Linked DNA regions of Homo sapiens. The protein of the gene in region 1 interacts with the protein of each later gene in a pairwise test. Each region holds a gene or a part of one and is shown on either strand. Other genes may lie near its edges. The genes, in order: SMTN and FILIP1L.

Region 1 (3,921 bases):
CTATCTTGCACAGTGGTCACCTGGCAGTAGTGGGAGCCCCACGTCTGACATGCAACAGGTGTTCAGCAAATGCTGGGGCCCTCGTCACGGGATGTTTACTCTTTCCTCGGCTGTAGCTGTAAACTTCCCTAGCACTGTACCGGACTGCCCTTTGATCTCTAGATCACCCCCACTCCCTTGCAGAGAGGAAGACAGAGGCAGGCGGGTATGTCTGGAGGTGGACCCAGGCACTAAGGGCTTGAAGGGGCAGGACCCACACATCCCTTCCATAGGGCCAAGGGCTAGTGAGCGCATGTGCCAGACAGTAAATCCAAGCATGGAGGAACTCACCTGTACCATTCCTCCTAGCCTACAGTAGGGCAGGGAGAAAGGAGGGCATTAGCACAAAGCAGGCCATTCATTGGAGCTGGTGACCGCCATTCAGGCAGGCCCTGAAAATCAGAGGTGGCCTAGGTGTGCCCTGCATGAAGGGGAGGTCCCAAGGGACGCGTGAATTTTGAAGTATTCAGAATTGGTCTTAGAGGGCGCCTGACCCTCGTTCTGGATAATAACATGGCATCTCGCCCAGGTAGAGAAAGCCTAGGACCTTGAAATATGTCCTCCGAAGTGAGCTCTGTTTGCCTCTCCTGCTGTGTAGCATTGACAAGTCGCTTTCTTCTGTGCCTTGATTTTCTTTTTTCTTTTTTTGAGACAGAATCTTGCTCTGTCGCTTAGGCTGGAGTGCAGTGGCACAATCTCGGCTCACTGCAACCTCTGCCTCCAGGTTCAAGTGATTCTACTGCCTCAGCCTCCCAAGTAGCTGGGATTACAGGTGCATGCCACTTGCCCGACTAATTTTTGTATTTTTAGTAGAGACGGGGTTTTTGCCGTGTTGGCCAGGCTGGTCTCGAACTCCTGACCTTGGGTGATCCACCTGCCTTGGCATCCCAAAGTGCTGGGATTACAGGCATGAGCCACCGCACCTGGCCCGTGCCTTGGTTTTCTGATGTGTAAAATGGGACCACTTCTCAGGGGTGTGGGGATGAAATGAAATGACACATGGAAAAGACTCTCAGTGTGGAGACTGGGCCTTTCCTTAGATGGGGGCTGGGGGGTGTCACAGAGGACCTGAACCGGGGCTCTTCTGGGTTAACAGGCTGAAACCACCTCCCCAGAATCCCACATTATAGTGGTTAAAAGCAGGGTCTGGACTCAGAAGGTGCTGGGTATGAATCACAGCTTTACTACTTATCAGCTGTTGTCCTCATCTGTAAAATGGGGCAATAGTCATGGTCTCATGTGCTTGTTATGGGCATTATATGCCTGGTACATGGCAAGTACAAAATAAATGATTTGTTATTGTTTTTATTTGACAGGACTCCAGACCCCATCCTCCCAACTCCACCCACTTTAGTCTCCATGGAGACCCAAGGGCGGCTTTAGGGCCTCTGGCACTGAAGATGGAATAGCTTTGCCTTGTGGATCTGACCTCCTGGGTACCCTGGCTGATTCCTTGTTTGGTCTTGGACATGTCAGCTCTCTCTGGGCCTCAATTTCCCCCTTTTGCTGAATGACAGCCTGGACTCCATATTCCCTATTTAGGACTCCAGCGCTCCTAAAGGCAGACTCTCAGGGCTTGGAAGGTAGAAGCATGCTACAAGAAGGCAATGTCTGTTCAAAGGTGTGTGGGCTGGGGGAGGCGTGCTGTGTGATTGATTCTGCTCCACCTGAGATGGTCCCGGCACTCCAACACAGGGTCAAGGTGCTGCCAGTCACTCAGTCCCTGCTCTGAGGTGGCTCAGACCAGGTGTCCCGAAAGCAGCCTAGGGACGGCGGCCAAGCTTAAACACTGACGCGAGAAAGGGGTGGAGTCGAGGGAGGGGACGTGGTCTCAGGAACAAAGAGGAGGGCGGAGAGGGGCTGTCCTGAAGGCTCTGAGACTCCTACGACCCCAGGAAACTTACCTCGGCTCGGGGCGCCCCCCCCGACTTGGCGCAGAGCCTGCGTCCCCCTGCCGATGCCCACCCGACTCGCTAAAGCCACCGAGGCAGACGACCCCAAGACTCCCAATTTCCGACCTCCCTGGCCCGCGAGGGGCGGGGCCTTCCTCTCGGGGCGTGGCCGTCAAATTGAATTTTCCCAATGGGGCACGAGAGTGGGAGGTACCCAATCGAGGGTTGGCTGGCGCGTCGGGGCAGGGCGGGGCCAGCCGGGCTGCTGGCGCGGCTGGACGGGCAGCTCTCCGCAGAATCCAGGGGACGGTTGCTGAGCGGGCCTGGGACAGCGGGTCGCGGCACCTCCGGCCTGCGCGTGTCTAATCCGTCTGTCGGGTCCCGAAAGAGCTAAGCCGAGCCTGCGCCGGACGGGTGGGCTGGACTGAGAGGTGGGTGTGCGGACCTCGGGGGGGATCCTGGTGCTGCCCCAACGTGTCCGGGGGTGGAACCCGGATGTCTAGACAGGAGTTCTGGAACGTCCAGACCTGGGAGCCCCCACCCATACGAGAGGTCTAAGCCATGGGATAAAGTTATGAGACTGTTGGGGGAAGACGCCCCCGGATTCCTAAGAGACTCCACGCCCCACAGGGGCGCTAGTCTGTGGCGGCAGAAACCCTGGGGAAGCTGCCACAGAATCCTGAGGCCCCTCACAATGTCCGGCGACCCCAGACTGTGTGACAGGGAGATTGGAGAAGAGCAGCGGCAGGGATCTTCTTATAATCCCATGGGTGTCCTAGATTAGGCATTAGGGTCAGCTGCCCCATAGAAGAACAGACATGGGGGGAATCAGAATGTCCGCAGAACCTAAGGCTGGTGACCACTGGACAGTCTTGAAGAGGTTTAACCCAGACAGAGTAACTAGGTAAGAGGCAAGGATCCTAACAGGCAGAGATTGGGAGGTTGACACCTCTGAGCCTACCAGGATGGGAGGGGGAACAAGCAGTGACTTGAACAGGCTGGGACCCACACACCCCAACTGTGTGGAGCGGTAACCCTCACCCCCCACCCATGCACCGTATGGGGTGACTTCCCAAGTGACTGTTCTGAAGAGAGGGAAGGGATGATTGAAAGATGAATCAACAGGAGGTGGGGGGCAGGCCTGGGGCCACACATTAGTCAGTCACCATACATTAACTAAGCATCCACAGTGTGCCAGACCAGGGCCCCTCAAATTCCAGACAGACATTAGTTGGGGCTACAGGAGGAAGGAGAGATCTGCGCTGGGAGGCTGGGCCAGGATTTAGGGGTCCATTTTGATGGGCAGCACTGGGGCAAGATGGGGCTCTTGCCTCTGTCACTGAGAGTGTTCCAGGCCCTTGAGGGCACTTTGGAAGGGAGCTTCGGAAGCCGGAGATGACGAAGATTTTGATTACATCCTTCTCTGCCCTCTAAGTCTTTGGCTTCCTCCTTGCTCAGTGACAAATCCTTGGCCCTCTCCAATCTTCTCAGTTTGCCTGAAATCCAGGGGTTGGGCAGGTCAGCTTCTGAAAGCCCTTCCAGGTGGGGAATTGAATTCTGTATGAATTGGCAGGAGGTGCTGGGTGCCTGGACACCTGGCTTCAGGAGGTCTGGACAGCAGAGCTGGCTCCAAGAATCGGAAGACACAGTGTACCTTCCTATACCTGGGGGAATGACAGTGGTGGTGGCAGCAAGAACTACGGGTTCAGCCCACAGCCAGAAGCTGAGCCTGCGGAGTGGGTGGGGGCTGGGTAGGCCCTGTGGATGGGTGGGTGGGGCAGGAAACTGGAGACTGGAGTGCACCCCCTGGTGGTAAGCACAGCTTGGGTGGGTCTTGCCAGGCCCTGGCTTCTCAATCCAGGTCCCTGCCCTCCCTGTTTTGAGGTTTAGACAGGATGAGAGTCCATCCCAGGCCACACAGCAGACTGGCGGCCAAGCTGGCAGGGCTGGAACCAGAGACCCCCTACCCTGGGTTTGGTGAGTTTTCCAG
Region 2 (3,921 bases), on another chromosome or scaffold:
GACTCTGACTCTGCCACTTTTTAGCAGTGTGACCTTTGGCAAGTGATTTAAAAAGGCTTCAAGCGGGCTGGGCGCAGGTGGCTCATGCCTGTAATCCCTGCATTTTGGGAGGCCGAGGCAGGCAGATCACAAGGTCAAGATCAAGACCATCCTGGCCAACACTGTGAAATTCCACCTCTAGTAAAAATACAAAAATTAGCTGGGTGTGGTGGTGCGCGCCTGTAGTCCCAGCTACTTGGGAGGCTGAGGCAGGAGAATTGCTTGAACCCAGGAGGTGGAGGTTGCAGTGAGCCGAGATCGTGCCACTGCACTCTAGCCTGGGCGACAGTGTGAGATGCTGTCACAAAAAAAAAAAAAAAAAAAAAAAAGGCTTCAAGCTTCAGTTCCTTCCTCTGCAAAATAAATGAGTTAATCAAAGGAAGGCATTTAGAATGGGCTTGTATATGATAAGTAATGAATACATGTTAGCTACCATTATTACTATTATTTTCTTTCTCTAAATTGGAGTAGTTTTGCTTGGCTACCTCGATACCATATTAAATGACCAAGACCAAAAATGATTTCTTTTTTGAGGCTTTTCACTTACTTGATACAAGCAAAAATATCCTCTAGTCACATCCACAATTCTAAAACAAAAATGAGTAAGAAAATGAAGACTAAAAAGTATGTCTAAGTAGCACCTAACTATGTAGAGTAATTTTTAATATACAACATTAATAAAGAATGATTTTTAAAATTTAAATTTTATAATAAGTAATTGGCTGAGGGGCTGCTGGAGGAAGGTAATGAGTAGAATAGACTTCTATTTACATTTGGCCATTTCCTGCAAATAAATTAAGTAAATAATTACAAACTCTCTTCTAGTCCTCTTGCATGGACACATCCTTACCAAGATACACCATGATTTCAACTAACTTAAGCCCAAGTAAAACTGACTAAAGGAACTACATAGGAAAACAAAGCAGGATCTACTTCTCACTGCCAACTGCACTGTATTTGTATCCATAGATACAAGACAACAGAGAGTCCCAGAATTCTAAAGCGGGAAATCCCGGGACTTCAAAGATCATCCAGTCTCAGGTCCTAACCCTGCTATCACGGGATCCATCAGGGGGTGAGGAACAGGGTAGAGGTCAAAGGAAACAATCCTTGGTCCTTGTTCCAGCCTGAGTGATCTCATGGGACAACCTATCCCAGTATTCTCATTTTATAAGCAACAACACAGACCCTGGCTAATTAAAGGCAGAGCTGGGATCAGAGGCTGGGTTTCCTGATTCCCAGCCTACACTCCTGAAGGTTATCGTTCTAGGGTTATGACAGTCACAGATAACAACACATTAGGCTGTGTTAAACTGACAACTAAGCAGGTTTTTTTCCCTTGTAAACTCACTAGGTACTAGGTCAGCACTTCATGAAGAGTAAAGTATCATTATTTGGCATACACAAAAAGCAACTTTCCTTTTTTTTTTTTTGGTACCCTGAAAATCCCAAACCACTGTTGCTATTACAAAATTTTTCTTTACCCTAGTATGCACCCCTGGGCCAAGCACAGATGCATTAAAAATTTGCCAAGAGAAACAATGAAGTCACTGATAATACAAAGCATGAGAGTATCATGAAATTCATGTCTTTGTTTTCTTCCTCTAGATACTTAATTATTTCTCATTACTGATCATTTTGTGGTTATTGGCAGAGGGGCAAGGAAACTCCACCACTGTAAACATGTAGAGACACATGCTCCTCAGTAGACCAGAAGTCTGCATATGATGGGTCTGTTCACAAATCCAATGTGAACACCACTTCATTAATCAGTGAGAATGTTGATGCTACTATCCCCAGCCTCCAAAGAGAATTGGTGGTCTCAGTAAAACTCTAATCTCTTTAGAAGAATAACAAACACAGTATAAAAATGTTTCAGGTCATTCCTTTTTTTACCACTTATGAATATCATCACTGGCAAATGATCTATGTTCTCCTACCAGATTTCATCTAACCCACTTTAAGAGTGAGGTGAGGAAGCTAGAATGTATACAGAGCTCCATTCAGTCTTCTGTTGCAGCTCAGGGCTGCCTTAAGCTAAAAGGGCACTACTTATGAACAATGTTTAGCAAATTACCCTGCTAAATAAAAGCTTACATTATCTTGGTATTCTGGAAGGGATATCCTAGATTAAGTTGATGAGGGCAGAGAAATTCTCATTGATTAGCAGCAGGATACAAGTTGATTCTTATCAGTAGACTATTGTTCCACACAGGACTATGTGGGCAAGAGGAAAACATAGGAATTCATCATGTAAAATGAAAAAAACAAAAACCAAACCCTATGTACTTCCAGGAAATGAAAAGAAGTAAAGAACCAAATATATTTCGCTCCTCTTTTAAACTAGACTTTTATTAGATTTTCACAGAAATCTGAATCTGTGGGTGTGGTGAACTTTTTCAAAGATGGCTGCAGTTAATTCCTTCCATTCCTTTGCAATGTGGCCTTGTATCTTCTTCCATGTAGAGGTGTAATCTATTTCCTCAATCTTGAATCTGGGCTGACATTGTGACATTCTTTCACAAATGAGATGTTGGGAGCTTCAACTCTCACGTTCTTGGAATGTTATCCTGAGACCACCATGTGGGGAAGCCTGGTCTAGCTTCTTGTAAGTTGAGAGTCACATACAGCTGAGATGAGATGACCCGGCTGAGGCTCTCCTAGTCCAACTAACCAACAGCCAAATACGTGAGAGCCCGTCTTAGACCATCCAGGCCCAGAATAGCTGTAAGAAAGCTGAAGCTGTGGAGTAACCCACAGAATTCTGAGCCATTGTTATTTAGCCTCCATCCAAGTTTTGGGGTTGTTTGTTAAACACTAACATGTACCTGAGACAGTTGGGCACAAAGTAAAAGGAGCAAGCCAGTCACCCTAATGCATGCCCATTATGTATGGAGCACCAGGTCAGATACGCCATGTGAGACATGAATGAAGAATAAAATTGTCTTAAAAATATAAGACAAAGGACATAGATGGCCCTATAATTAATCTGTGAACATACCTATAAATAAAGCAGAATGTAATATTTACCTATATTAAATATATTTATGTAACAACCTTCCATTATTTCTATAGCCCAGAGTAAGGATATTCCTAGGTGTTCAAGAAAATACAATAGGGGTGGGGAAAGATAATTAGAAATCCTGTTTATGTATAATTTTTCATTTTTGTCTTTTTTGAATGTTTTTTATAAAGCACATAATATACTGTGGTAGTACATGAATATTTTTATAAATAAATAGATATACACACAATGAGGTTTTTCCCAATCTCATCTCTTACACATCCCCAACCTCCCATTCCTACACAAAAATATCCCTTCTATGCCTTTGCTTTTCTCAAATAAATGAGCCTTTCCCTGGCTACCTAGGGAAGAGCCAGTGACAACTACTGTCACACATCATTGTTCATCTATACCGTATTTGTAAATAGTCTCTTCAGTAAGGCTATAGGCATTTTTCGGACAAGGTATTTGTACCAGTGTATATATGCATTTGTCTTAGGCAATACAGCATAATGACATTACGGCATGATTTTTAAGAGTGTGGGTCCCTGAGCCAGGTTTCCTAGACTCAAATCCCAGTTTTGCCACTTATTAGCTGTGCAACCTTCAATAAGTTTCCCGTGCTTCCATTTGTTCACTGTAAAATGGAGATAATAATATTCCCTACCTCATAGTGTTGTTGTGAGACTTGAATGAGCTAATACATGGAAAATGCTGAGAAGAATGCTTAGCACACATAGTAAGTGCTCCCTCACTTCCAGATCAGGTCATTGGACCTGAAGAGGGTGAATGTCCTTTTTGTTTTGAGACAGAGTCTTACTCTGTCACCCAGGCTGGAGTGCCGGGCGCGATCTTGGCTCAATGCAACCTCGGCCTCC

What was found.
Region 2: the proteins of SMTN (region 1) and FILIP1L interact in binary tests that used the Homo sapiens proteins (3 or more experiments, as listed by UniProt).

Annotation. Positions count from the first base shown.
Region 1 is NC_000022.11:31,079,095-31,083,015, forward strand, and holds the start of SMTN (smoothelin), read left to right. Parts: upstream 1-2,223; 5' UTR 2,224-2,362; intron 2,363-3,765; exon of another isoform or gene 3,766-3,821; coding exon of another isoform or gene 3,822-3,908; intron 3,909-3,921. UniProt on the Homo sapiens protein: Structural protein of the cytoskeleton.
Region 2 is NC_000003.12:99,932,817-99,936,737, reverse strand, and holds part of FILIP1L (filamin A-interacting protein 1-like), read left to right. Parts: intron 1-3,921.